4 linked regions of the Homo sapiens genome follow. The protein of the gene in region 2 interacts with the protein of the main gene of each other region in a biochemical or structural test. Each region holds a gene or a part of one and is shown on either strand. Other genes may lie near its edges.

Region 1 (7,024 bases), on a different chromosome or scaffold from region 2:
AGTGCTAGGATTACAGGCCTGAGCCACCGCGCCCAGCCTTGTTTTTATTTTTTTTTTTGAGACGGAGTCTTGCTCTGTTGCCCAGGCTGGAATGCAGTGGCACAATCTTGCCTCACTGCAACCTCTGTCCCCCAGGTTCAAGCGATTCTCCTGTCTCAGCCTCCCGAGTAGCTGGGATTAGAGGTGCACGTCAACACACCCAGCTAATTTTTGTACTTTTAGTAAAGATGGGGTTTCATCATGTTGACCAGGCTGGTCTCGAACTCCTGACCTCAAGTGATCCACCCACCTTGGCCTCTCAAAGTACTGGGATTACTGTCGTGAGCCACTGCGCCTGGCCTCTCGTTGTCTTTTATCAGTTTTACGTGCTTGACGTGTAGGTATAGAGCCTGTCTGCAAAAGAAAATTACTGTATGTGAAGTCTGATAAAGTAACTGATTGGTATCTATCTACACCCCATCCCCGCCCCAACACACACAGAAATACAGGAGGATTGAGAAATGAATTTTGAGGAGTCATGTAAAGAAAGATAGAAGGTTAAATCTAAGTTGCTTGTAGCTAAGCAGGATTTTATATTTTGGGTGCAAGAATTTAAGAAGAAAGTAATGTGTTTAAATGCTTAGAAAGGAAGGATCAGAATGTAGGAAGTGGGACCAGCAGTAGTGAAACTAGTGAGGAAAAGTTTCCCTCAGCCCATATGGGCAATTTCCCTTGGTTCCTGTGGAGCATTTGGCTACAGACACAGAAGCAAAAGCATTTAATCAAAGTGTTTAAGAACTGGGTTTTTGGCTGGGTGTGGTGGCTCACACCTGTAATGTCAGCACTTTTGGGAGGTCAAGGTAGGGGGATCACTTGAGCCCAGGAGTTTGAGACTAGCCTGAGCAACATAGGGAGGCCCTGTCTCTACAAGTAATAAAAAGCATTAGACAGGTGTGATGGCACATGCCTGTGGTCCCAGCTACTTGGGAGGCTGAGGCAGGAGAACCGTCTGAGTTTGGGGGTCATGGCTGCAGTAAGCCATGGTTGTTTCACTGCACTCCAGTCTGGGTGACAGCGTAAGACTGTCTCAAAAGAAAAAAAAAAAAAAAAAGAAAAGAAATGAGTTTTGGGGCCTGGCACGGTGGCTCAAGCACTTTAGGACGCCGAGGCGGAATTATCACTTGAGGTCAGGAGTTTGAGACCAGCCTGGACAACATAGACCCTTTCTCTACCAAAAAAAAAAGGTTTGTTTGTTGGATTATTTTTTTTTTTTGGAGACAGAGTCTTGCTCTTTTACCCAGGATGGAGTGCAGTGGCGTAGTCAAGGCTTTCTGCAGCCTCAACCTTTCAGTCTCAAGCGAGCCCCCTACTTCAGCCCCCAAGTAGCTAGGACCACAGGTGCATACCACCATGTTTGGCAAATTTTTAAAACTCTTTTTGTAGACCCTGGGTCTCACTATTTTGTCCGGGCTGTTCTTGAACTCCTGGGATTACAGGCATGAGCCAGCTTGCCCGGCCAAAAAATATTTTTAAAATTAACTGGGCATGGTGGCATGCACCTGTAGTCCTAGTTACTCAGGAGGCTGAGGCAGGAGGATTGCTTGAGCCCAGGAGTTCAAAGCTGCATGAGCTGTGATGGCACCACTGCACAACTCTTGCTCTCTTCACCACTGTGAAAAGTCTTGCTCAGTTGCTCAGGCTGGAGTCTTAAAAAAAAAAATAATAAATGGGTTTTTAAGCATTAGTTTGCTCATTCATTTATCACTGAGAGGCATTATGCTACATAATGAAAATACAAAGAAAAGTAAATCCTAGTTTTTGCTCTTGAGAAACTCAGTCTGATAGAGAAGAAAATGTATGAAAAGTTATCATATACAAACCTGTGTGAATCAATATTTTGGGAATACAGGGGGAAATCAGTGAAGGCTTCAAAAAGGAACTGACTAAATTTAAAAGGTACTAATGTCCGTCTGACCCACAGGCACCTGTTTGTGAAGTTTAACAGTGGTTATGTTTTGGAGAGAAGGCAAGGGAGTATGTTCTTGTAGCATTGCAGCAAACCACATCTATGGATGGTGGATGATTTAATCAGTCTTTGAAAAGGGTTATGGCAGCTGTTTTCAATGTGATAAAGCTTAATTGTAATCATGAAGATTATTTTGGAAAGAACCCATTTTAGTGATAATCCAACGTAAGAAGCTACTCAGAAGCAATTGAAAGGATTAGGTTGACTGGAAAATTATAAAACTGCCTAAATGTTCATATCGAGGTGATGTTTCTGGGGAGAAACACACCATTTTGTAGCCTCATGACTCATCAGTACACATGGTATTTGTCTCACTGGGGAACTCACTGTCTAAGTGGAACAAGGTTTTCCTTTTTCTTTTTGTTCTTTTTTTTTTTTGAGGTGGAGTCTCGCTGTGTCACCCAGGCTGGAGTGCAGTGGTGCAGTCTTGGCTCACTGAAACCTCTGCCTCTGGGTTCAAGCGATTTTCCTGCCTCAGCCTCCCAAGTAGCTGGGATTACAGGCGTGTGCCACCACGCCCAGCTAATTTTTGTATTTTTAATAGAGACGGGGTTTCACCATTTTGCCCAGGCTGGATTTGAACTCTACTGGCCTCAAGTGATCTGCCTCTCTTGGCCTCCCAAAGTGCTGGGATTACAGCTGTGAGCCACCATGCCCAGTGAAACAGAGTTTTTCAAGCATTCTCTCTCTCTATCTCTAGTTTTGGTTGAAAGCTGTCATTCTCTGGTGTGAACCTGGGAGGTGGAGCTTGCAGTGAGCCGAGATTGCACCATTGCCCTCCAGCCTGGGTGACAGAGCAAGACTCCGTCTCAAAAAAGAAAGCTGTCATTCTCTGGTCCCATCCCTTCATCCCTCTCCTTATACCAAGATCATTGCTTTTCATTTATTGTACTGAGCTATAATGGGTATTTTCTCTATTAAAAATATTGCTTAATATTTAAAATGAGAATCAAAGATAAAATGTTTAGTTCAAAAAAAAGGCATACTTGTCACTTTACTAAATTGTAAAATTTTTAACTTCTTTTTAATCTGTATGCAGGCAATTTTTTTTCCATCACATAAAGGTCACTGAGATACTGTGTCATTTATTTAGACCCCAAATTTTGTTTTTACAGCATGATAGTAGTATTGTTACTTTGAAAGGATTGTTCTTGATTTCTTTTTGGGGTGTTTGTGCGTATTTCAGTACTTCCAGCGGCAATGTAAGCAACAGAAAGGATGAGACAAATGCTCGAGATACTTATGTTTCATCCTTTCCTCGGGCACCAAGCACTTCTGATTCTGTGCGGTTGAAGTGTAGGGAGATGCTTGCTGCAGCTCTTCGAACAGGGGGTAAGTCCAGTGCATGTTATTTCTCAGTCCTTTGGTCACCACCCACAACCACTGCCATCTCCAACTCCATATTGCTGTTTGATGAGTGTTACCCTGTGGATAGCCCACCCACTGCTGCTTAGCTTGGGGAGAAGTTGTTGCTGATACGGGTCTGTTAAGGGGGAGAGGAGGAGGAATACTGGGGCATTTGCTTATTACTATGTAATTGTAAGAAATAGATTCCCTCTAATACATGGATGTTTTCCCTGATTTCATAGTAATGTACACTTTTTTCTCACAAATCTTTTGTTTCCCCACAATTTAATCTGCAAACTACATACCCTGATCTTATATTGAGAGTTAACAATACTGAATTGTTGAATAGTATGACATATAGTATGAATGTTTTCCATTTTCTAGTTAGAAAAAGGGAGGGTGAGTCTTGATTTATATATGGGAGCTTAATTTAATTTGAAAGTATCCAGTCTTAACATGTAACATTTGGATTTAAAGTTTTATATACAGGAATATTTGTTATTTTATACGAATTCATCCTTTTTCTTTTCTCTCATTCTGCACCATGGCTAGTTTGACCTGATTTTCTCCTTACTCTGCCCTTTCTACTTTGATTTCCTGACTGTCTCTTTTATTTTTTCTGCCTAGTTTATTTCCTTCTATCCTCTTGCATATTTGTATAGCAGTCTTCTGAGTGTGTCTGTATATGTGATTGGCAGATTAACTAAATGATTTCTTTGCATTGAAGCCTGAGTCACAGGAGACTAGACAGTTCTTTCTGTAACTTTCTCTACTCTGCTGGAGCAGCCAGAATTTATGGAGTTACGAAAAATGAATTGCCTGCTAGATCAGTTACTTCCTGTGCCTGAGGGATCAGGAATCATCAGTGCAGGAGCACTGTGGGTATCAGGTGAAGCCCAGAAAAGAAGTCTAGCGGGCAGTGAAGTGATCAGATTCTAACGAACTAAACTGAACGGTTTCTTTATGTCAGGCAAATGGGGTTTAAGAAATAGGAATGCAGTTTAATTACCTGGTATTAGAATTTTCTTTTAATCTGTTACAATAATTTGACAATTCTTTATGCCTATTTTTAGATGACTACATTGCAATTGGAGCTGATGAGGAAGAATTAGGATCTCAAATTGAAGAAGATATCCTTTGTGTGTATATTCATAATTGTTTTTTTTAATAAGTAATATTTATTGAACATATGCAAATGCCAGGCACGGTTTTACATGCAGTAGTCCTTCCAATGAATTAGGTGCTCTCATCCCATTTTACAGAGAGAAAACAGAAGCAGAAGAGGATTGGTCATTGTTCTAGATCACACAGCCTGACACTGACAGGGCTGGGATTCCATTGTAGGGAATTTGGCTCCAAGCCCATGACCTTGACCACCACGCTAGACTTTTTCCTTCATGTTGAAGCTGAATGAACTAGAAACAGCGAAGTTTAAAAGGACCTGGCTCTTTGGAAACTGAAACATATAAATCCCTAGTAAAATTGCTTCAGATAGCAGGAGAGTGAAAATATGATTGAGAACAAGAAAGGCAAACCGATAACATAATTAGAAGAGATTACAAAATACATGAGAACATTGGGTGTATCTCGTTGGCAATTTGAAAACCTAAAGAATTTCGCTTTCCTAGCAAAACATGAGTGTCCAAGATTGACTTTATGTACTTGGCAGGACAGGCTGTGTTATATTATGGTGACAACCTTGAAATTTCAGTGGCTTAACACCACAGAGGTTTCTTTCACAGATTAAACTGGACAAACAGGAATGTATTTGTCCTATATGTTCATCACAGGCTAGCTGAGGACTCTGGGCTTTGGGTCATTGTCCTCTAGGACCAGGCAGGTGGATTGGCCATTGTGAGTGGTGATGTGGCAGAAGGTAAAATGGATAAATTGCATACTGGCTTTCAAAACTACTGCTGAGGAGTGACATCTATTACTTCTGCTACCAGCCAGAAAGGTCTCTTGGTGTCACACAACTTCAAGTGGTCATAATTGTTTTAAGTAATCTGCTAGCTTAATTTTTCCTGTTGGTATAGAATTCAAAGTCTTATTCTTCACTTTTTATCTTGATTGTATTGTTTTCTTGGAAAGGAGAGGGACATCTATGTCATTTTATTTGTCTTGTTTTTCCTGTTATTGAAAAGGAAAGTACAGTATTGATGGCATTTATGACATTTAAATTTTTCTGCCTTGTAGATTGAGACTGTAGTGTCTGAATTTAAGTTGTGCAAAAGGGCATGGAAAGCACACACATATAAATGTGAAGACTTCTCAGTTAGGGGGACCTCAGAGCACACACAGTCACCTGAGCTCATTATCCCAGAGGAAGCGTGTTCTTGCTAAGCACCGGGAAAGGGCTCCAGGAGAGGGGTACTGTGTGTGAGTAGGGGCAGGGAGCATCTAGGTGGCTGTGTAACATGAGATTGTCCTGGTTGAGGAAATGGCCTTATTAGGAAGGGAGCTGTTCCAGGGTTCAGCTTTGGCAGTGGCCTCTTCTGCAGAGAAGAAGAGCCTGCTGAGGTAGCTCCTGCTGAGCTGGGGGAGGAGAGGAACCCTCACGGCCATGCTGAATGGTCTCTTCTCAGAGACCCTGTGGGAACTGTGTGACCAGAGAGACTTTAGGATCCTTAGTAGAATTCGGATTTGGGCAAGTAAAGCTTGAATAAGTTCAAGCTCCTTTTCAAACATGTGCTTTCTCATGTTGAGTACTTGAGTTACTTTTTGAAACCCTGTTGACTTGCATACTGCTGGCACTAAACATTTAGGAAATAAAACATGACTAGGCCGGGCGCGGTGGCTCACGCCTATAATCCCAGCACTTTGAGAGGCCGAGACGGGTGGATCACCTGAGGTCAGGAGTTTGAGACCAGCCTGGCCAACATGGTGAAACCCCGTCTCTACTAAAAATACAAAAATTAGCCGGGCATGGTGGCAGGCGCTTATAATCGCAGCAGCTACTCGGGAGGCTGAGGTAGGAGAACTGCTTGAACCCGGGAGGTGGAGGTTGCAGTGAGCTGAGGTCCAGCCTGGGTGACAGAGTGAGACTCCTTCTACCCACCTTCAAAACAAACAACTACTTTACAGTGTAAAAGTAATATCACTATTATTCGCCAATTACAGCTCAAGGAATTAGATATAGTACCTTGTTTTTAACATACTCTAAATTGGAAACAGTTGTCGTGAATTGCTTAGAAATTTCAGGTTTGTTTTTTTTTTTAAGATGGAGTGTCCCTCTGTCGCCCAGGCTGGAGTGTAGTGACCTGATCTCAGCTCGCTGCAACCTCTGCCTCCCAGGTCAAGTGGTTGTCCTGCCTCAGCCTCCCGAGTAGCTGGGACTGCAGGCACCTGCCACCATGCCTGGTTAATTTTTTGTGTTTTTAATAGAGACGGGGTTTCATCATGTTAGCCGGGATGGTCTCGATCTCCTGACCTCGTGATCCACCAGCCTCAGCCTCCCAAAGTGCTGGGATTACAGGCATGAGCCACCGTGCCTGGCCTCAGGAATTCTTATTTTGGCAGAACAGGAAAAAAAAGTGATCTTACTTTTGTAATTTTGCCTTTTTTCCTTAACGGCCTGGTACCTATATATCAAGAAATAAGGAATACAGACATGAAATACAAAAATAGAGTACGAAGTAGGATATCAAATCTTAAAGATGCAAAAAATCCAAA
Region 2 (7,024 bases):
CCCAAAGTGTTGGGATTACAGGCATGAGCCACTGCACCCGGCCTAGAGCAGTATTTCTGTATTGATGTTTTTTAGGAATTTAACATCCCCTTTCCAGTTTTCATTGTTAGCCTCAGAATACTTAGAAAGTTCCTTTCTAACCTGTACTCCCACTGTCTCCCAGGTGCCTGAGCCCTGGTGCTTGTGCAGGGCCCCCAATCCAGGCTCTGCCCCATCCCAATAGCCCTGTCCTGCCCTGAAACTGCCCTTGAGCTGGGCTTTTGTGTCTGTGGAGGCGGGGACTGTCATCCTCTCTGCCTCGTCTCTGTTAGACAGCACAATTCGATGTCAGCCCGCCACCTGACGTTGTGTATCTGTCATCCTCTCTGCCTCATCTCTGTCAGACGGCACTGATTCGATGTCAGCCCGCCACCTGACGTTGTGTATCTGTTTGCTTAACCAACCCTGGCATATGTGATCATTCTAGTCCCTTGACCTCCAAATTTTCATTCCTATGCGAAGACCTGGCATCGAGATTTGTGGTTGGAGAGGCAGGAGGCAGGCGTGTGTCCCCACAGTAGCCAGCTGTGAAGGATTTGGCCCTTTTGCCTCTGAGTATCCAGGGAATGGCCAGGGCTCCTGGGGAACTCAGCGACTGGACTTTCGGGCCCAGAACCCAGGAGGGCAGGCGTAGGGACGGGATGGCATCAGGGAGGTGGCAGTCGAAAGGACCCGAGTGGGCAGAGGAATGTGAATAGCCCCACCCCACGCACAAGCTCAGCAGCTCTGCGGGGCCACTGGTTTAGCGGCAGTTCTTGACATCAGCGTCAGCATCTGAGGTTGATAATTTTCTTAGGAGCTTGCTTGTGTTAATCCTACTAATAATTTACAAAATCCTAAGTCACTTGACTATTATGCCCATATTTTTGCCTTTTGCCATTTCTTCCTTTCCATCAGCTCCAGAGCCCCTTCCTGTCAGCTCCTCTGAGCCTTTTTGACAGGGCAGGCCGCTCCCCGCCCCTCCGCAAAGACTTTTTAATATTCTTTTATATGCTTTGACGTTTCTTGCCCACTGTATTCGAGGAGTTTCCCCATTTCCACCCGGAAGTCCGTCCTTGCTGATGTAACACCATGTCAGGTGTGGCTTGTTTTCCCGAGGAGCCTGGTGGCCACAGCCTCAGCTTCAGCCACTTCCTGGTTCTCGGTGGCCAGTCCCCACAGACTGTGAGACCTATGCTTGCTAATGTTAACTAAGAAGAGAATCTGAAAGTATTTACTTCAGAAACCTCCTTTTTGCTAGTTAGCGCCAGAGTGAGTAGATTAATCAGGGCAAAAGAGAATGAGAGGTGCTGTTAGTGTGTTACAGGGAAAAGTCACCCGAAGGCAGAATGATAGGATCGAATGGGGACATGCCCAGGATAGGCCCCAGTGGTGGGTACTGTGGTTTGCATGGAGGTAGCTGGAGGTCCGCTTAGAAATTCTGCATCAGCACTGGGTCTGGTTTTTGTTTTTTTGTTTTTGAGACGGTCTGGCTCGGTCGCCCAGGCTTAAGTGCAGTAGTGTGGTCTCAGCTCACCACAGTCTTGACTTCCTGGGCTCAAGCTATCCTCCCACTTCAGCCTTCTGAGTAGCCGGGACTACGGGCGCACACCCCCACACCTGTCTAACTTTTGTATGTTTTGTAGAGACAGGGTCTTCCTATGTTGCCCAGGCTGGTGTCAGACTCCTAGGCTCAAGAGACCCTCCTGCCAAGACCTCCCGAAGTGCTGGAATTGCAGGCATTAGCCACACAGCGCCTAGCCTGGTCTGTTTACAGAGTCAGCAAATTCTGGCCTTTAGGCTACCCAGCCTTGTTTGTACATGAAGTTTTATTGAAACATGGTCACGCCCACACGGTCAGAGTTGGGTTTCGTCCCCGTGGCCCGTAATGCCTAAAATAGTGACTCTGGCGCTTTAAGAAACAGTTTGGGAACTCCTGCCTGAAGGAGAATCGGAAACAGCACTGAAGATGTTACTGAGGTTTAAATGCGACCCAAACAGAAAGGGCTTCGGGGCGGTTGGTGTCCGTCTGATTAACCTGCTGTCTGCTGGTTACATGTGGATTAGAATCTTAAACTGTTACGCTTGGCAAGATGAATGACTACAACTTTTCATTATTATTTTTTGTAAATTATGCATTTTCACTTGTAGAAATCTCTTTCCTTGTGGAGACTCAATGGTTTGCATTATTGATGATCGAGAAGATGTCTGGAAGTTTGCCCCCAATCTGATAACTGTGAAGAAATATGTATACTTCCAGGGCACGGGTGATATGAATGCGCCCCCTGGGTCCCGAGAATCTCAGACGAGAAAGAAAGGTGGGTAACCTCCTTCCTGATTCTCTAGAAGAATTCACATTTGCTTATTGTTTAGCTCTTCTTATTTCTTATCTCTGTTTTGACTGCTATAAATTCAAGATACACTTTTTTTATTTGTGTTTCAGTAGAGATTATTGGATTTATTTATAGAGTACTGAAAAACAGGATATTAGGTTGTTTCAATTTGGGCTTTAAAAAAAATGGCCCTCACTTAAGCGTTTTCCCAGTTGAATAAAAACTAGAGGATGCTGTTTAACCTAACACATCCGAATAACTCCCTTCATCCCAGTTTTCCTTAAACACATCCCTGGGTATTGGGCCATAGTGTTCTGTAGAGAGAGTGAATGTGGGGGCGGTGGCTCTGCGGGGAATAACCGTTCCCCATGCGCAGTGGTCAGGCTGGGCGCTGGCTGGGGCCCCAGAGAGCAGCGTGGTTTAACTTGTCAGTCAGGCATGCAGCTGACGTCCACCCTACGAAAGTTAAGTGTTTTTTGATCTTTAGTTTTTTGAAAAATATTTTGAGGCACACGTTTATTGCTGTAGTCACTAAAATGGAACTTGGAGGTTAGGACCAGGGGAGGGTGAAACTAGGGGCATTCCTGTAGAAGGTAGAGACTTTCACCAGATGGGTGGGGTCAGCGTGGAGTTGCTGACTTCCTCCAGACCGTGGCTTGGGAAACCGTGGCCATGGTGGTGCCAGGTCATCCGGGGCTTACAGTCACGGTGGCGCCAGGTCTGCAGGGGCTTACGGCCACGGTGGCGCCAGGTCTGCAGGGGCTTACGGCCACGGTGGCGCCAGGTCTGCAGGGGCTTACGGCCACGGTGGCGCCAGGTCTGCAGGGGCTTACGGCCACGGTGGTGCCAGGTCTGCAGGGGCTTACGGCCACGGTGGCGCCAGGTCGTCAGGGGCTTACGGCCACGGTGGCGCCAGGTCTGCAGGGGCTTACGGTCACGGTGGCGCCAGGTCTGCAGCCCGGAAACCTCTAGTTGTCCTTACAGGTGGAGGATCCCTCCTCCCCCAAATCCAAAGCTTTTTGAGTGCCCACATGGTGCTTAAAGGAAATACTCATTAGGGTATTTTGGATTTTTTGGATTGGGGATGTTCAGCTGGTAAGTTTAACGCAAATACTCCAAACTCAGAAAAAAATTCAATATCCAAAACGTCCCTGGTCCCACGCACTTCAGGTAAGGGGTGCTCACCCTGTCCGGCCTCTTCACAGCAAGGTTGCCAAGGCCTGGTCTAGAGGGTGGTGGACTTCACAGCCATGGAGAAGGGTGCTGCTTTAACTTGGAACGTTATTTAATGTTTAATGCTAAATTGCGGTAACTTTTCCTTTTGCATGCATATTTAGTAAATCATTCTCGAGGCACTGAGGTCTCAGAGCCATCTCCGCCCGTGAGAGACCCTGAGGGGGTAACGCAGGCCCCTGGAGTGGAGCCCAGCAATGGCCTGGAGAAGCCTGCACGGGAGCTGAACGGCAGCGAGGCCGCCACCCCGCGGGACTCACCCCGCCCCGGGAAGCCAGACGAGAGGGACATCTGGCCCCCTGCCCAGGCCCCCACCAGCAGCCAAGAGCTGGCAGGCGCTCCTGAGCCCCAGGGATCCTGTGCGCAGGGTGGCCGGGTGGCACCGGGACAGCGGCCTGCCCAGGGTGCCACGGGCACTGACCTGGACTTTGACTTATCCAGCGACAGCGAGAGCAGCAGTGAGTCCGAGGGCACGAAGTCCTCCTCCTCCGCCTCTGATGGCGAAAGCGAGGGGAAAAGAGGCCGGCAGAAGCCGAAGGCTGCCCCAGAGGGAGCCGGGGCGCTGGCACAGGGCAGTTCCCTGGAGCCGGGGCGGCCTGCAGCACCGAGTCTCCCCGGAGAGGCCGAGCCTGGCGCGCATGCCCCGGACAAGGAGCCTGAGCTGGGTGGGCAGGAGGAGGGCGAGCGGGATGGCCTCTGCGGCCTGGGCAACGGCTGTGCCGACAGGAAGGAGGCGGAGACCGAGTCACAGAACAGCGAGCTGTCGGGGGTCACTGCGGGTGAGTCCCTGGACCAGAGCATGGAGGAGGAGGAGGAGGAGGACACGGATGAGGATGACCACCTCATCTACCTGGAGGAGATCCTGGTCCGTGTACACACTGACTACTATGCCAAGTATGACCGCTACCTCAACAAGGAGATCGAGGAGGCGCCGGACATCCGCAAGATCGTGCCGGAGCTCAAGAGCAAGGTGCTGGCAGACGTGGCCATAATTTTCAGTGGGCTACACCCGACAAACTTCCCGATAGAGAAGACGCGGGAGCATTACCACGCCACGGCGCTGGGAGCGAAGATCCTCACTCGGCTGGTGCTGAGCCCCGACGCCCCTGACAGGGCCACGCACCTGATCGCCGCGCGAGCTGGTGAGTGCTGCCTCCCTGTGCCCTGGGCATGGTCAGGCCCGCGGGCTCCTTGCAGGCACTCCTTAGAGTTGGCATTGCTGTTTATCTCACTTTCAATTTTCAGAAACATTTCCCAGAATCACCATCTTTTAAGAATAGATCATGACAGTGGGTGAAATTGGAGTTTGGGCACGTTCATGCTTTCAGACCGCAGTCATCGCACACACCATTCAGGGGTGGGAGTTACTCGTGTGTAGAAAGTTCAACCTTCTCCCTGGAGTAAGCCATGGCCGGGTTGGAAAACAGGGAATCAGCGATAGGGACGTAGTGGAGAAATTCGAGGCAGGAACAGGAGTTCGCAGGTAAAAGATTGACAAACCCTCTGAGTTAGAAAACTAAATGCAAGGTTTCAGCTGAAACGTGCACAGAAGGACACGTTGTGGCTGGGAGGGCGGAGGACAGGCCTGCTGTCTCCCGACGGTGAAACCTGTCCCGGACGGGGCAGGCTGCTCTGACATGTTGAAACTTCCGCCGAATAAAACAACCTTTCAGCAATAGGTGATTCTTGAAGGAAGACTTAACACCCCGGTGCTTAAAAAACCCAAATACCTCGTTATTCTAGTTATTCTGTGAAAATGCTCCCATAAGCACCTGGATTTTCCGCGAATGAAGATTGCGGTTTTTCTCCTCCAATCTGCTTCCTGTCCTGGCGGCGTTTCCTGAGAGGGCTTCTCAGTGCGTGGCCCCGCCTCCGGGGCTCAGGAAAGCCTTGTGGGGTGAGCTCATCCCTGTCCACGCACGCTCCCTGACAGCAGGTGTGGTCTTATTTGAGGCCACGGCTCTGGCACGTATCATGGGGCGTTGGACACGCATGTGCTCAGTAAAGCATTTGAATCAAGGGTAAATGGAAGGTTCCATCTCAGTGTGAAATAGCCAGGTGCTAGCTGCAGGGCAGAGGCGGGCTTTCCGTGGAGCCCAGCGAGACCCTTGATCCCAGGAGAAAGCCAAGCCCTGGCCTCCTGTGGGCAGTCAGACCCTTCTCTCCTGAGCGTGGAGCCGGGCCAGGCCGGGGTCCTCCTTGGCCCCTCAGGTGCCTGTCTGCCCTGCCGCGTGTCTGCCCAGCTCCTGACCCTTCTCTCCTGAGCATGGAGCTGGGCCAGGCCAGGGTCCTCCTTGGCCCCTCAGGTGCCCGCCTGCCCTGTCCTGTGAGTGCCCAAGCTCCTGGCCCTTCTCTCGCATTCCTTCCTTCCCCCTGAATTGTGCTCACGTTTCCTTTTTGCTTCTGTGTACGTGGCCTCACTGTTGAGAGGCTTTGCTGAACACATGCTAAGAGAGGTCCTCCTGCTGCTCAGGTCACCCGCTGTGCCCGGCTCCCCGTCTGAGATCCACCCCTTCCCACCATGGCTGCCTATCCCTGGCCTGGCAGATGGGAACCTGCAGTGGGCAGCCCTGGTGGGGTGCAGCCGGGTGAGGGCCCTGGTGGGGTGCAGCCGAGTGAGGGCCCTGAGCCCTAGTGGGGTACAGCTGGGTAAAGGCCCTGAGTCCTGGTGGGTACAGCCGGGTGAGGGCCCTGAGCCCTGGTGGGCTGCAGCCGAGTGAGGGCCCTGAGCCCTGGTGGGGTACAGCTGGGTGAAGGCCCTGAGTCCTGGTGGGTACTGCCAGGTGAGGGCCCTGGGCCCTGGTGGGGTGTAGCCGGGTGGGGGCCCTGGTGGGGTGCAGCCGAGTGAGGGCCCTGAGCCCTGGTGGGGTACAGCTGGGTGAAGGCCCTGAGTCCTGGAGAGGTGCAGCCGAGTGAGGGCCTTGGTGGGGTGCAGCCGGGTGAGGGCCCTGGTGGGGTACAGCTGGGTGAGGGCCCTGAGCCCTGCAGGGGTGCAGTCAGGTGAAGGCCCTGGTGGGATGCAGCCGAGTGAGGGCCCTGAGCCCTGGTGGGGTACAGCCAGGTGAGGGCCCTGGTGGGTGCAGCCGGATGTGGGCCCTGAGCCTCCAGTGCTGGCCGGAACAGCCTGACGCAGCCGGGTCTCCTGCAGGCACAGAGAAGGTGCTGCAGGCACAGGAGTGCGGACACCTGCACGTGGTCAACCCTGACTGGCTGTGGAGCTGCCTGGAGCGCTGGGACAAGGTGGAGGAGCAGCTCTTCCCGCTCAGGGACGATCACACCAAGGCACAGAGGTGGGTCCTCGCTGCACCCAGCAGGTCCGTGCCAGGCGTTCCCTTGCTGGACAGCTGTTGGTTCATGCACCTGGGCAGTGCCCCTCATCACCCGGACGCCCCGCTCATGGCCCTCGTTCTCTTCCTCCGACAGGGAGAACAGCCCTGCGG
Region 3 (7,024 bases), on a different chromosome or scaffold from region 2:
GCCAGGGCCGGATTCGGGTGGGGACCCAGCTCCGGGTGCTGGGCCCTGAGGACGACCTGGCTGGCATGTTCCTCCAGGTAGCGTTGCTGCTGCATGTGGGTCTCCACCTGCAGCCCCTCTTCCTGCGTGCAGCCTTCGCTGCCGCCTCGCACGCACAGCGGCCTTTACTTGCGTGACCGCCTGACCCAGGCACGCTGCACACGCACAGCGGCCTTTACACGCGTGACCGCCTGACCCTGGCACGCTGCTTTCACGTAACACCCCCATGCTCTCAGATGGAGGCTAGGCCAACATTGGGGAAGGGGGTCGCCCTGCATCCTCCCTGCCATCCTTGCACACCCCTCTGCGCGGGGCACCCGGTTTGATGTGTACAGAAGCTGAGGTTGCAGGTCTCGCCTGAGGTCTGGCTGTTGGAGCCGGGGATCCTGCAGGCCTCACCACCTCCTGATGGAGAGCCTGGTGGTCCCTGGGCAGGCTCTGGACACCTTTGTTCTCTGGGGCAGCTCCTGGGTGTTGGGGTCCCTCACTGCTTCACATCACAGGTCTCAAGGGCCCTGGGCCCCTCAGGCCACAAGGTGGGGGCTACGAATGAACAGGGACACGATGGGACGCGGTTCTGGCACGGAGCTGCACCGGGCGCTTAGCCTCTCCGCTGCGCTCCTCCTCCTTCTCCTCCGCTTCCTCCTGACACTGGCCTTCCCCGTTCCAGATTTTCCCGCTCAGCCCGGACCCTCGGTGGCAGAGCTCCAGTCCCCGCCCCGTGGCCCTCGCCCTGCAGCAGGCCCTGGGCCAGGAGCTGGCCCGCGTCGTCCAGGGCAGCCCCGAGGTGCCGGGCATCACGGTGCGTGTCCTGCAGGCCCTCGCCACCCTGCTCAGCTCCCCACACGGCGGTGCCCTGGTGATGTCCATGCACCGTAGCCACTTCCTGGCCTGCCCGCTGCTGCGCCAGCTCTGCCAGTACCAGGTACTTGGGCGTGGGCCTCTTGCGGGGGAGGAGGGCAGTGAGGGCTCTGCCTCCCGCAGGACGGCCCGGGTGTCCTGTGACTGCTCCTCTGTGGGTCTTGGGTCTCAGTTTCCAAGTGAGAAAGGACAGTGCCCCAGGGAGTGGCGGCAGGTCCCCTTTTTCCAGTGAACATTCCCCCGGGACGGGAGGTGGGGGCAGTGCGGCGTCCGCCTGTTTGCACCACCCAGGCTCGGCGCTCCTGCCTTGCTTTCCCCATCTGCTGGTACCTAGGACTGTGTTTTACTTGGTGTCTGTGTTTACTTTTTCCTTTGAACCGCGTGGGAGCCCTCACCAGCTGGGGGGTTTTGAAAGGGTCTCTGTGAGGTCGTCTGGGCCCGTGCAGGGGAGGCACCGTTTCAGACAGGAGGCGGGATGAGGTTGGCCCAGGCTCCAAGTGCCGGTCGCGGCAGGTCTCAGCAGCCTCACGGGCCCTGCTCTGGGCCTCGGGTGCCGGGTCCCCGTGTGTCCTCTGCCAGGGTAGCCACGTGCCACTTTGTCCCCGCAGCGCTGTGTGCCACAGGACACCGGCTTCTCCTCGCTCTTCCTGAAGGTGCTCCTGCAGATGCTGCAGTGGCTGGACAGCCCTGGCGTGGAGGGCGGGCCCCTGCGGGCACAGCTCAGGATGCTTGCCAGCCAGGCCTCAGCCGGGCGCAGGCTCAGTGATGGTGAGGACCGCGCCGGGCTGGCAGACGGCTGGGGGGCACTGGACAGGGGCTCACTCAGAGTGGCCAAGCTGCCTGGCACCCCGAGGCCTGGGCAGTGGCTTGGGGGGTGGGTACCCGCGTGGGCCCAGGGGAGCCCTTCTACCGTGGGGCCTCCCTGGATGGGATACACCGATGGGGTGAGGGCTGGAGCCACAGGGCACTCACACAGACCTCCCACAGTGCGAGGGGGGCTCCTGCGCCTGGCCGAGGCCCTGGCCTTCCGTCAGGACCTGGAGGTGGTCAGCTCCACCGTCCGTGCCGTCATCGCCACCCTGAGGTCTGGGGAGCAGTGCAGCGTGGAGCCGGACCTGATCAGCAAAGGTACCTTCCTGGCACCATCCTCTTGGGCCACGGCGGCCCTGGGAAGACCCAAACCTGAGGCTCCTTCTAGCTGCCCAGTGGGGGACGGACAGTGTCTGCTCAGCACTGTCCCCGGAAAGTGCCCACAGAGGTCCCCTCCCAGATGGCTCAGGGCGGGGCCTCTTGAGAATGAGTTGGAGCTTCCTCCTTGGGGGGCCCCTGATCACTGCTGCACCCAGCAAAGTGAGCCCCGGCCCCGGCCGCACTCTCCAGCCCCGGCCGCACTCTCCTCTCCGGCCCCGGCTGCACTCTCCTCTCTGGCTCCGGCTGGACTCTGCTCTTGTGTCCCACACATGCTCACCCCACACCCCACCCTGGCTAGCCCACACCCACTCAGCGGCCCCCACCCGACCTGGGAGTGACCCACATGTCTCTTTGTCCCTTGCGCAGTCCTCCAGGGGCTGATCGAGGTGAGGTCCCCCCACCTGGAGGAGCTGCTGACTGCATTCTTCTCTGCCACTGCGGATGCTGCCTCCCCGTTTCCAGCCTGTAAGCCCGTTGTGGTGGTGAGCTCCCTGCTGCTGCAGGAGGAGGAGCCCCTGGCTGGGGGGAAGCCGGGTGCGGACGGTGGCAGGTGAGCTGGGGTGCTGCACACGGCCAGGGTGGGCAGGCGGGTGGCACCAGCCCTTCCCTGAGCCACCTTCTCCCTGCAGCCTGGAGGCCGTGCGGCTGGGGCCCTCGTCAGGCCTCCTAGTGGACTGGCTGGAAATGCTGGACCCCGAGGTGGTCAGCAGCTGCCCCGACCTGCAGCTCAGGCTGCTCTTCTCCCGGAGGAAGGTGGGTGGCACCCAGCTTCAGCACGGGGACCCACCCCAGGGTAAAGGCTCTTCCTGACCTGAAGTGCAGCAGCCTTGGCCTGGGCGAGCCTTGCAGGGGCCCCAGCACCCCCCCTGCTCTCAGGCCATGTGTCCCTGTAGCAACCCAGAGGAAGGGTAGGTCCCCCAATGGCCCTAGCAGAACCCAGGCCAGGGTCACAGTCACCTGTGGACCAGCACTGTGACCAGCCAGATGTGGGGATGGGGTGGGTGGATGGGGTGGGGTCGGCCCTGCCAAACCCTGTAGATCATGTAGGGGCCTCCATCTTCCCAAAGGGAATGGGGCTGTGGCCAGGAGAAGGGAGGGCAGGTGCTGGGCTCCCCACATCCTCCAGGGAGGGACGGCCTCACCAGAGAGGCTGCATGGAGCCCCGGGCACCTCCGCTGTGTGGCATGGCTCCCGTGGGAAGGGGCGGGGAGATGCAGCGCAGCCACCAGGAGCGGCCCTCCAGCACCATGACGGGGCCGGTGTTACCGGCAGCACCCCAAGCCTCGGCTCTCTGAGTGGCTCATTGGGGAAGCTGTCAGCTGACTTCAGCAGAGCCTGCCATTGGCCCAGGTGAGGCCATCCGGGCTTCTTCCTCCCTCCCCAGGGCAAAGGTCAGGCCCAGGTGCCCTCGTTCCGTCCCTACCTCCTGACCCTCTTCACGCATCAGTCCAGCTGGCCCACACTGCACCAGTGCATCCGAGTCCTGCTGGGCAAGAGCCGGGAACAGAGGTGGGCGCCTCCCTGTCCCCAACCTGGGCTGCGCGCATACTGGCCTTCACCAGAAATCTCCCAGCGCCGGCTCTGACTGGTATCTCCCATGCTGAGACGAGACACCTCGTGCTCTGGAACCTTTGCCTCCCCACAGGTTCGACCCCTCTGCCTCTCTGGACTTCCTCTGGGCCTGCATCCATGTTCCTCGCATCTGGCAGGGGCGGGACCAGCGCACCCCGCAGGCAGGTCTTGGGAGGGTGGCCCATCCGGGAGAGGGGGTGGCCCATCCGGGAGAGGGGGTGGCCCATCCGGGAGAGGCGGTGGTGCTCCGGGGCTGATGCAGGCACCCGTTACAGAAGCGGCGGGAGGAGCTGGTGCTGCGGGTCCAGGGCCCGGAGCTCATCAGCCTGGTGGAGCTGATCCTGGCCGAGGCGGAGACGCGGAGCCAGGACGGGGACACAGCCGCCTGCAGCCTCATCCAGGCCCGGCTGCCCCTGCTGCTCAGCTGCTGCTGTGGGGACGATGAGAGTGTCAGGAAGGTGACGGAGCACCTGTCAGGCTGCATCCAGCAGTGGGGAGACAGGTGCTCAGGCCCCCCGGCCCCAGATGCTGCCTGGGAGTGAGCCATGGAGGGGGTCGAGGCCCAGCCCTGGGTGGGTTCCCATCACGCCTGGTCCCGTCCACCCACCCCTGTCACTGGGGCCCCGTCCGCCTGGTGAGCCCTGCTCCACCTCTTCCAGCGTGCTGGGCAGGCGCTGCCGAGACCTTCTCCTGCAGCTCTACCTACAGCGGCCGGAGCTGCGGGTGCCCGTGCCTGAGGTCCTACTGCACAGCGAAGGGGCTGCCAGCAGCAGCGTCTGCAAGGTGAGGGCGCAACTCTGCCGCTCCCCGCCGCCGTCCCAGGTGCCCTGGCCGGGCAGGGAGGGAGGGCGGAGGCCACAGTGTACATGGCCATCGCCGGCTACCCCTCTTGCCCCTTCCCAGTCCGCGCCGCCCTGTGGCCCTGTGGGTTTGTCTGCGTTGAGTTTTATACCGAGGGAGCTTGCGGGTGCTCTGCTCGCACAGTCTGGAGAGTCGTGGTGTTGTGGGCACTGGGTGGCCTGCCATTGTGTGGATCGGCCGTTGGTTTATCTGTTCACCTGCTGGTGGACGTGGGGTCACGTTCAGTTTGGGGCAGTGACAGCTGCTGGGGACTCGTGCCCGGGTCTTGGCGGACGGCTGCGTCTGCTCCTCTCCAGTGACCCTGGTGGGGAGAGCTGGGCCTCCCGTACCCGCTTCCCCACCGCAGGCCGGAACCTGCAGCCTGTCTTCTGCTGGTACCACAGAGGGCAGCTGACTTTCTCTAATCATTTCTGCTTGTGGTTTTTTTCACTTATATGTCATTTTATTTGTTGAAATCACACTTGATGTGCAGTTTTGTGGAGGGTTTTTGAGGCAGGGTGTCTGTTGCCAAGGCTGGAGTGCAGCGGTACCATCATAGCTCACTGCAGCCTCAACCCCCTGTGCTCAAGTGAGCCTCCCACCTCAGCCTCCCGAGTAGCTGGGATCACAGGCACGTGCCACCACACCCAGTTACTCTTTTTGTATTTTTGAAAATAGAGAGGGCTATTTTCATTGCCCAGGCTAGTCTTGAACTCCTGGGCTCTGGTGATCTTCTGCCGCGGCCTCACAGAGTGCTGGGATGGCAGGCGTGAGCCACTGCGCCTGCTTGGCCGATGTGTAGTTTTGGCTTGTTTCCCGCTCATTGTATCATTTGGTGTGGAGCTTTGCTTTTATTCTGTATGGGGTTTTCCCAGAGGCTGGCTGTGGCCTGCCTGCCCTCCCGAGGTGCTCATGGAAGCCGTAAGGAGCCAGTTCCTCTGCTCATGGCGTGCCACGCGGTGGATCACGGCCACAGCTGGCGGCCAGGCTGAGTGTGGGTGGGCAAGTGAGGGGAGCCAGCGGCCCCGGCCTCAGAGCGCCCCTCCCTGCAGCTGGACGGACTCATCCACCGCTTCATCACGCTCCTTGCGGACACCAGCGACTCCCGGGCGTTGGAGAACCGAGGGGCGGATGCCAGCATGGCCTGCCGGAAGCTGGCGGTGGCGCACCCGCTGCTGCTGCTCAGGTGCTGTCCCAGAAGCCCTGCCCTCGCCAGACACTGGTTTAACCAGGGGGGTCTGCGGCTCTCCAGCCTGGGCAACAAGAGCAAAACTCCAAAAACAACAAAAAAAAGCATGTTCCCATGGGCTGAGCTTGACCGGGGGAAGTCAGGACTGAGCTGGGCCTCAGGTGGGAGGAGCTGGGTGGGCCTCAGAGAGGGGCGATCTCATCCCCACCTCCTTAGGGCAGGAGGGTGGTTGGGGGGCAGCACGGGGTCTGGCTCCCGGGGCAGGCAGTGGGGCCTTCCTGGGGACGTGCGCCAGGTGAGCCCGCCGGCCGGGGCTGACTGGGCCCTCACCGCGCCCGCAGGCACCTGCCCATGATCGCGGCGCTCCTGCACGGCCGCACCCACCTCAACTTCCAGGAGTTCCGGCAGCAGAACCACCTGAGCTGCTTCCTGCACGTGCTGGGCCTGCTGGAGCTGCTGCAGCCGCACGTGTTCCGCAGCGAGCACCAGGGGGCGCTGTGGGACTGCCTTCTGTCCTTCATCCGCCTGCTGCTGGTGTGTGCTCCCGCCGCCCGCCCTCGCGCTCCCTTCCACTCCCTCTGCTCTGGCCCAGGCCTGCCTCACCCACTCGCGGAGGGACTGGGAGGACCTCTGCAGCCAGGGCCCAGGCCAGGCCACCTGCCCTGGGGACCAGCTCCCACCCTGGGAAGCCCCTGCCTGCTGCCCCTCACGTGCCTGGGGGGCCCACGTCCTTCAGAAGCCCAGCCCAGACCCTCCGTGCTGTTCTCTGCGTGTCGCTTGTGCTACCTCGAGCCCCTCATCCATCTGGGCACATGCCCCAGACAGCCATGTCCACACCCTGACAGGCCATGCCGGCCACCCTTGGGCCTGTGACGCCCCAGTGGTTGGCAGAGGGGGCTCGTTGGCTGTGGGGTCCATGCCCTGAGGCTCTGGGAGCAGATGGGAGCACAGGCTCTGTTTTGGCCCTGCGGGGCAGAGCAGCTCGAGGGTGCCGCTTTTGCTTTGCAGAATTACAGGAAGTCCTCCCGCCATCTGGCTGCCTTCATCAACAAGTTTGTGCAGTTCATCCATAAGTACATTACCTACAATGCCCCAGCAGCCATCTCCTTCCTGCAGAAGCACGCCGACCCGCTCCAGTGAGTGCCCACGGGCTGCAGGGAAGCCTCGGGCCTCCGGCGAGGGTCCAGCGGGGTCTGGAGGGTGTTCCTGGGAAGGCCGTGTCGTGTCAGATATGCTGCTCCTGAGGCCGGGGAGGGCTGCTGAGCGTGGTGCTCATCCCAGGGCGCAGAGGCCGCCCCACCCTGTGCCGAAGCCGTCTGAACCCACCCCTGC
Region 4 (7,024 bases), on a different chromosome or scaffold from region 2:
GACATTTCCAGCAACCCAGTTCACTCAGAAGGGTAACACATACCATTCTGGAAGCCTGTCTGGCAATACGGTATACAGTCCATCCATTGGAGACACTTTCAAGCTGCTGCTTAATTACTGCCTTACTTTCCACAGACAATGCCTTCTGACTTGCAACAAAAATCACAGTAGCCAAACTCACCTAACATTGGGCAAGAAGAAAACCAAGAAAATCATTTAATTTTATTCAGTGTCATTGATAACCTACCCCAAAGGGAGGAAAACTAATTAGAGCCCACTGCAAAAGAACAAAATTTGTTTTCCAATGACATTTATTTAATTTTTTATTTTGAAGTCATTAATTTATTCCATTCACTCAGGGCACTCTTTATAACAGCAAAGAAGTAGAAGCAATACCCATAATATGAATAAATTATATAACATAATCAAACAATGAGATACGTAAATAAAATGGATAAACTAGCGACAGACTTACCAACATAGATGACAAGCAAAATACGCAAAAATATGCAAAATGCAAAAGATTACAAGTAGTATGATAAAGTTTACATAAAATTAAAAATATGCAAAATACTGCATATTACTTAGGGATATACACTTTGGTAGTAAAAGAATAACAGGCATGAGAATGATAAATACCAAATTCAGGATAGTGGTTACCTGAGAGAAGGGAGGAGATGCTATCAGCAAGGTAAACAGGGGGCTTCAACTAAACTGTTAATACCTTTTTCTTAAGCTAGATAATGAATGCAAGAGTTTTCACTGTATTATTCCTCAGATTTTTTGAATATTATGTTTCATAATTTAAGACAATCTTAAGGTAGTACTCACAAAAAAGATATCAGGACCGTTAGTTCAAAATGCCACTTCAATAAAAAATAAACTTAGCTAACTGCCTCTTAATATTTCAAAGCTGATTCATATAAAGATCCATACATTTGGTCATCAAGGTAACCTTTTCTGGCAGCAAATGATGGGATGGGGTCAATCTTTTACACAATTCCCTCTGGAGGATTAAACATAAAACAGGCTTGAATAAATTATTTCATTATATTTTTTCCCACATTCTAAATTAAGATGAACAGAACAATATGGAATGGCAACCTTACAACTTTCATTTAATTTACAATTATTTAGAATGTAGCCTACTCTCAGTCCTGCAGAACTTTTCAACTAAACATTTTATAGCTTCCACAGCTTCTGTTTCTTTCTAAGCATGTACCTTTCCCAACCTCAAGGGTCTACAGAAGCCTAAACTGGATCCTAAACAGCTAAAGAGGTCCTGGAATGGAAAACATAAATTTGGGCTAATTTATGGTCATTATTATCATTAGATTTTTAACTTCTATTTTCTAAAGTACAAAACAGGGTTTAGTTCATTATTTACTCTGTATAAGAAAGATAAAAATTTCATTTTCATTCTGTCCTTTGCAATAAAAAAAAACATGAGATTGAAGGCTTTGGCTATACTAGGCTGATTTGACAGGGTTTCGGAAGAAAGCAGTTTTAGAGGTGAACAAAACACGGCTTTCTAAATCAAAAGTGAAAAAAGTAAAAAGCTCATAAAGCCAATTCTATTTTGACATCAGCACACTCTTTGGTCTTAGGTAATGAATTTAACCTATTGTTTGTTCTGTTTTTTAAGTAAAGTCAAATAGTAATGTTGACTTAAAAGTAATTCCCACTAGACCAGATCCTAGTCATTCAAAGGAGATTCAAAATGGGCTTTTTACCAGAAGTTCTTGTTGCTTGTCTGTGGCTGATCGTCCAATCACCTTGTACAGCTCCATGAGGTCACCAAGCATCCCATCACCCAGCACCGGCAGTTGCATGGCAATGGCTGCCAGGCAATGGCACATCAAAATCCGGGCAGCGTCTTGAGCACTGTGCAATTGAGTCAACAAGGTCTCAACTACTGACTGGCTAAGATGGGGCCTGCCCTTGGCCAACTTCACCATACAGTTTAGAGCAATCTGCACGCCAAAAAGAAAATGAACTAGTTACATTTTGAAGATACAGATGAAGCTTTAAGGAAAAGAGCTTTGTACAGGTTACTGGGGAAACTCAAGGGTGAGGTTTCTTGTAGGCATAACATTTTACTTCATAAGAAATATGAGGTACTGAATCTCACATTAGGGTTTGTGAAGTGCACTACGTTTAAAATAACAAATTAGGACTGCACGTCAACCACTCATTTCAATCTAAGACTATTAAAATACTTTTAAGAAAGATGGAAATCATAAGGAATAATGCTGAAGAGGCAAATATAGGCCAAATGTCACCATCACTGTATTATCATTACTTTTCAGGAACTGCTTCTGAAGTGTGGCTTGTAAACTATGCCAGCATCTCCCAGAATGAAAATAAAAATATAGATTCCTGAATTAACATACGTGTGTGTGTGTGTTGAGGCTACTGAGGTTTCACAGTTTTAAAAAGACGGCTTAGATGACTCTAAGTACACTGAAGTGGGAAAGAGGTTCCCAATTTTCTCTTATTTCTCAACTGAAATCTAAAAACCAATTTGGCTACAGAATTTCTCTTACCAAGGCCTTCTTAAAGGCATCACTAATATCCAGCCAAAAAACTAGAAACCTAGAAATATTCCCACTTTTACATAGCTAACAGATTCTTTTGTCAAGCCTCCAATATCCACTGTTGGCACTTTTCCATTCTCTCTACCACATCATAAATCTCTTCCTAATTCCAATTTCTTGAAAAGATGGGCCCTTCAATCCATCCTTCACAATGCAGCCATGTAGCCATCAGTGGGGTGTCAGGCACACACATAACTTTAGAGTCTGATAAATGCAAGGGCTGAAGCTCAGCTTGCCCCTTATTAGCTAGGTGGCTTTGAACAAGGTACTTCTCTCTCTCGGCCTTAAGTTTCTGATGTGTATAAGAGGAGAACACATTTCATTATAGGGTTATTGAAGGACTGAAACAAATGTATATATAAGTCTTCAACAAAGATTGGCACATAATAGACATTCAAATAACAATAATAATTACGACAAAGGTTACCATTACTTTAAAATTATATTATCTCCTCATTACCTATAGAATCAAAGCCATAATACCATGTTATTTGATATCCTCTATGACTGAACTACTTTTCCAAATCTCAAATTATTTCACCCAGCCACAGTGGGCTAGTCACCATTCTTCCACCACAACAGGTACATTCTTACTTTCAAGTCTTTTATAACAGCAGTCATTGGGCTCAAACAATCTTTCCTCATTACTGTAATTCGATTCCATCTTTCACAACTCAACTCATATGACATTTATTTAAAGTCTTCCCTAATACCCTTGGTTAAAGTTAATCACTCCCGACTCTGACCTCTCATTAGAACTGCACTTTTTTTGTGAAATATCAGAGAATGTATTGTGTTCCGCTTGGTATTATAGTCCCCTATATAAACATCAGTAGCCTATTCTAGATGGGAAGCTCCTCTATTACAGGAACCTTTCTTGGCCATCTATGTATGTCCCACTGTGCTGAATCCAGCATTTTACTGACACCCACAATTGTTGGAAAAAAGATTTGCTTTTAAAAAAAGTCTTAAATGTACTGTGGTTCCAAGGGGATTCTGAGGATCCCCCTCAGAATGTGTTGCCAAACACATGTTGTCTACTTCCCTTCTCTACTTCTTATTAGCTGTCACTTAATGATGTTACTATCTTTATTGTTCATCACTATGACCATATCACAACTTTCCTTAACCTGCTAAAATGAGCCATGACTTCCTTGAAACCACACCTTAGACAAGCTAACGCCAATGTTTATCTAACAGTTTCTTACTTCTATTAACTATGCTTCTCCTCATTAATTTTGCACCATCACAAATTATATTTCACGTTTCACTCCAAAAAGAGTAGTTTCATTTCACATTTTATTTATTTATTTTTTTTGAGACAGGGTCTCATTCTTTCACATAGGGTAGAGAACAGTGGTGCAATAATGGCTCCCTGCAGCCTCAACCTCTCGGCCTCAAGCAATCCTCTCACCTCAGCCTCATGAGTAGCTAGGACTATAGGTGTGCCCCAATATGTCCAGCTAAATTTTAAAAAATTTTTCTAGAGATGGGGTCTCAGTATGCTGCCCAGGCTGGTCTTGAACTCCTAGGCTCATGCAATCCTTCCACCTTGACCGCCCCAAAATGCTGGGATTATAGGCATGAGAGCCACTGTCCTGGCCTCATTTCACATTTTAAAAATCTTGCATATCTCTAAGATGATTTCTGTAACTAAGTGAAGGTGAAAATTCCTTAAAATATTCTTCCCTTGGCTTATAAACTAGGGCTTATACCACTGGGAAATTAATGAACGCTTATGTTAAATTAATGAACATTTATGAGTCGGCTGCAGTCATGTCATCAGTTTTTTTGTGGTTTTATCAGTTAGATTAAATCAGTGTAGTTTTATCAGTTAGATTTAATCACTTAGATTAAAACTTCTAAGAGTACAGGAGCTATGTCTGCTTAACTTTGCTTTCTATTGCCTAAGACCATCATATATATCTATTACAACTTAATAAATAAAAGTTTTCACCTTTAAAGTGGCCTGAGCACCTGGACTATCATCTTGACTACAAAGTACCAGTAGGGATTCCAGGCCAAAGACAGCATCTTGTTCCAGTGCCAAAAGATCTAGAAGAAAAACAGTAAACTTTATGATGGTCAAGTGATGTGTGTACAAACACACACACATATACATGCATACACACTCTCTTAGAAAAAACATTAAGGAGTTTAAGATATAGGGAATTATTAAATGGATGAACCTAACCTTCCTTGAAAAAGTACATGTGGCATTACTTCTAGAATGTAAAGTCTATCTTCAGACTTTATTTCTACCACTTTATTGAAGTATTTATAAAAATATACACATTAAATCAAGAGCTAAAGCCACAAAGCTATAAATAAAGCAAAACTGAAATAGTGTCACCAGCTTAGCTAAGGAAAATACTAAGAACAGCAAACTATGCAGTATGTGTTAATCTCCCTAATCAGAAATAAATTATGCAGGTCCATTTTTACCTAAGATATAACAGTTTTCAGCTTCTAATGAAAGCTGAACCACTTTTAGGAAATAATAAGGTCTCCACATAACCTTATTACTGTTTTAAGTCTGACCATAAAGAATGAACCTCTTAGATGTCTCATGAAATAGCAGCACTAGAACATCTTTTCACTACCATAGGGTTAAAATTTCTCTGAAGGTTTTAGAAAGTTCTGAATATATTAGTTACCTTTAGGTTAATATATTTCAGTGTTGAGAACATACAGCAGTTTTCTGTGTTACATGGAAGAAAATACTCTTTGTGATGCCAATATAAAACAGGCTTAATTATCCAAATCAGAATCAACTTTCAACTTTAAGAAATGTTTCCTGAGTGCAGGAGCTTGGCAAACAGAGTAAAGGCTAGTGAAGGTCAGGTTGCTAGAAAAAAACAGGTACTAGGAACAAGCAGTGCTGAAGGCTAGGGGGGATAAGAGGAACCACTGAGCTTGTAATCCTTAATGAAGATCAAAATCAGCACTGAAACAGATGGAATATCCAAAATGCATTTCTTGTTCTTGAACACAAGTCAAAAGATGTTAGGTAGACAACAAAATATGTGCATTATTTTCCTTGCATGTCCTCCTTGATTATGCAAGTCAGTTTAATGCCACATATACCTAGAGTAAATTCTGTGAAAATTTAATTCACATTGGTCTGTGAATTCACTTGCCTCTAGGTGAAACTATTTGTTATTTAAGTCCCTGGAGAACCTAAGTAAATTTTCTAGGTTTTTGTATAAGTGAACATACCACCTTATACAAAAGGGGTAGAGTCCTAAGCAATCTTTATCCACCATATATGCACCATATATGCAAAGGTAAGCAGTGGAAGGAAATGGGCAATGCTCCATAAAACCTTTCAATTCCACTCCCAAGGTCTTCATCTCTTTATTATTTTTCACAAGGATAAAGTAGTCTTAAGAACACATGCTCTAAGAACACTTTGAAAGGAGTCAATTTGTAGATCAAGGCACACAGGCTAAAAATAAGGGATTAAAAAAAAATCAAACAGAATTCTGTCCAAGGTCTAAACCAAAGTTTATACGTAATATCAGTCCTGATCAAACTTACCCTTTTCTTGACAAGAAACAGTTATATTAGTTAGGACTCTAACTCCATGAGCTGCAATGCCCCTGTTATTATGGTAACAGCACTCTTGGGCTAATTTGACTAAATCAGAAGATCTGGGAGAAGAACTCACATTTCCTAAAAAAGCAGAGAAAAGTAGTAGAAATTGTAATTCAAATAGTTCAAAAGCAGTTCAGCTCATAGGTTCAATTTTCTTAATTTTTGAGAAAAGTCTCTAACAATAAACTTCAACAAAATTTCCTACCACAATCCCACTATCAATACATATCAGCATTTCTCTCCATTAAGGTACTTGAAATAGGTATGTGCCAACAGTTTCGTAATGACTAAGATCTAAAATCAACGTATAATTTCTTAAAAAATATTAATAAAAATTGACTAACAGTACAAAAGCCAAAACAACTATCCTAAGAGTTCAAATGAATTCTGATTAAAACAGGTATCATTATAGGCCTCTTGTCAGACAAAACCATACTTTCAAGATAGGAGAGAAAAGAGAAAAAAATTTAAATTTGCTTTTTTTTTCCATCTCAGATTGCTGACACACATTTATACCTCATATGAATTCGTGATTGTAGAGCTGGAAAGAATTTTGGGATCATCTGATTTAACACACCCTATTTTTACAGGTGGAATCAAAGCCCAAAGCCCCAAAATTTTAAGAATCTTGCCATTAAGTTCATAAAACTTATCAGTCATGTTCTAATGCCCCTGTTATTATACTCTTCTGCTTTATACCTTAAATTCCATGCTATAGATTGCAGCAATTTTTAAAATTCACATTTGAAATTCTGGAATGCAAGGTTCATGTTGTAACTATTGTAATTTACAGTAGAGAAGCCCTCAGTTATAACTGAATAAGCTTCAAG

Evidence for each region.
Region 1: the proteins of CTDP1 (region 2) and TCEA1 form a complex in vitro, tested with the Homo sapiens proteins (one study listed by BioGRID).
Region 3: the proteins of CTDP1 (region 2) and INTS1 form a complex in vitro, tested with the Homo sapiens proteins (one study listed by BioGRID).
Region 4: the proteins of CTDP1 (region 2) and INTS7 form a complex in vitro, tested with the Homo sapiens proteins (one study listed by BioGRID).

What each region holds. Positions count from the first base shown.
Region 1 is NC_000008.11:53,984,427-53,991,450, reverse strand, and holds part of TCEA1 (transcription elongation factor A protein 1), read left to right. Parts: intron 1-3,191; coding exon 3,192-3,337; intron 3,338-4,425; coding exon 4,426-4,482; intron 4,483-6,933; coding exon 6,934-7,024. Other genes in the region: LYPLA1-TCEA1 readthrough, read left to right, coding at 3,192-3,337, 4,426-4,482, 6,934-7,024.
Region 2 is NC_000018.10:79,710,803-79,717,826, forward strand, and holds part of CTDP1 (RNA polymerase II subunit A C-terminal domain phosphatase), read left to right. Parts: intron 1-2,169; coding exon 2,170-2,336; intron 2,337-3,688; coding exon 3,689-4,726; intron 4,727-6,732; coding exon 6,733-6,874; intron 6,875-7,007; coding exon 7,008-7,024. UniProt on the Homo sapiens protein: Processively dephosphorylates 'Ser-2' and 'Ser-5' of the heptad repeats YSPTSPS in the C-terminal domain of the largest RNA polymerase II subunit. This promotes the activity of RNA polymerase II.
Region 3 is NC_000007.14:1,473,370-1,480,393, reverse strand, and holds part of INTS1 (integrator complex subunit 1), read left to right. Parts: coding exon 1-77; intron 78-709; coding exon 710-964; intron 965-1,508; coding exon 1,509-1,668; intron 1,669-1,887; coding exon 1,888-2,028; intron 2,029-2,457; coding exon 2,458-2,641; intron 2,642-2,720; coding exon 2,721-2,844; intron 2,845-3,475; coding exon 3,476-3,600; intron 3,601-3,736; coding exon 3,737-3,824; intron 3,825-3,938; coding exon 3,939-4,165; intron 4,166-4,322; coding exon 4,323-4,446; intron 4,447-5,555; coding exon 5,556-5,689; intron 5,690-6,033; coding exon 6,034-6,226; intron 6,227-6,700; coding exon 6,701-6,828; intron 6,829-7,024. UniProt on the Homo sapiens protein: Component of the integrator complex, a multiprotein complex that terminates RNA polymerase II (Pol II) transcription in the promoter-proximal region of genes.
Region 4 is NC_000001.11:211,976,539-211,983,562, forward strand, and holds part of INTS7 (integrator complex subunit 7), read right to left. Parts: intron 6,273-7,024; coding exon 6,138-6,272; intron 4,653-6,137; coding exon 4,555-4,652; intron 1,974-4,554; coding exon 1,734-1,973; intron 1,007-1,733; coding exon of another isoform or gene 908-1,006; exon of another isoform or gene 294-907; intron 182-293; coding exon 44-181; intron 1-43. UniProt on the Homo sapiens protein: Component of the integrator complex, a multiprotein complex that terminates RNA polymerase II (Pol II) transcription in the promoter-proximal region of genes.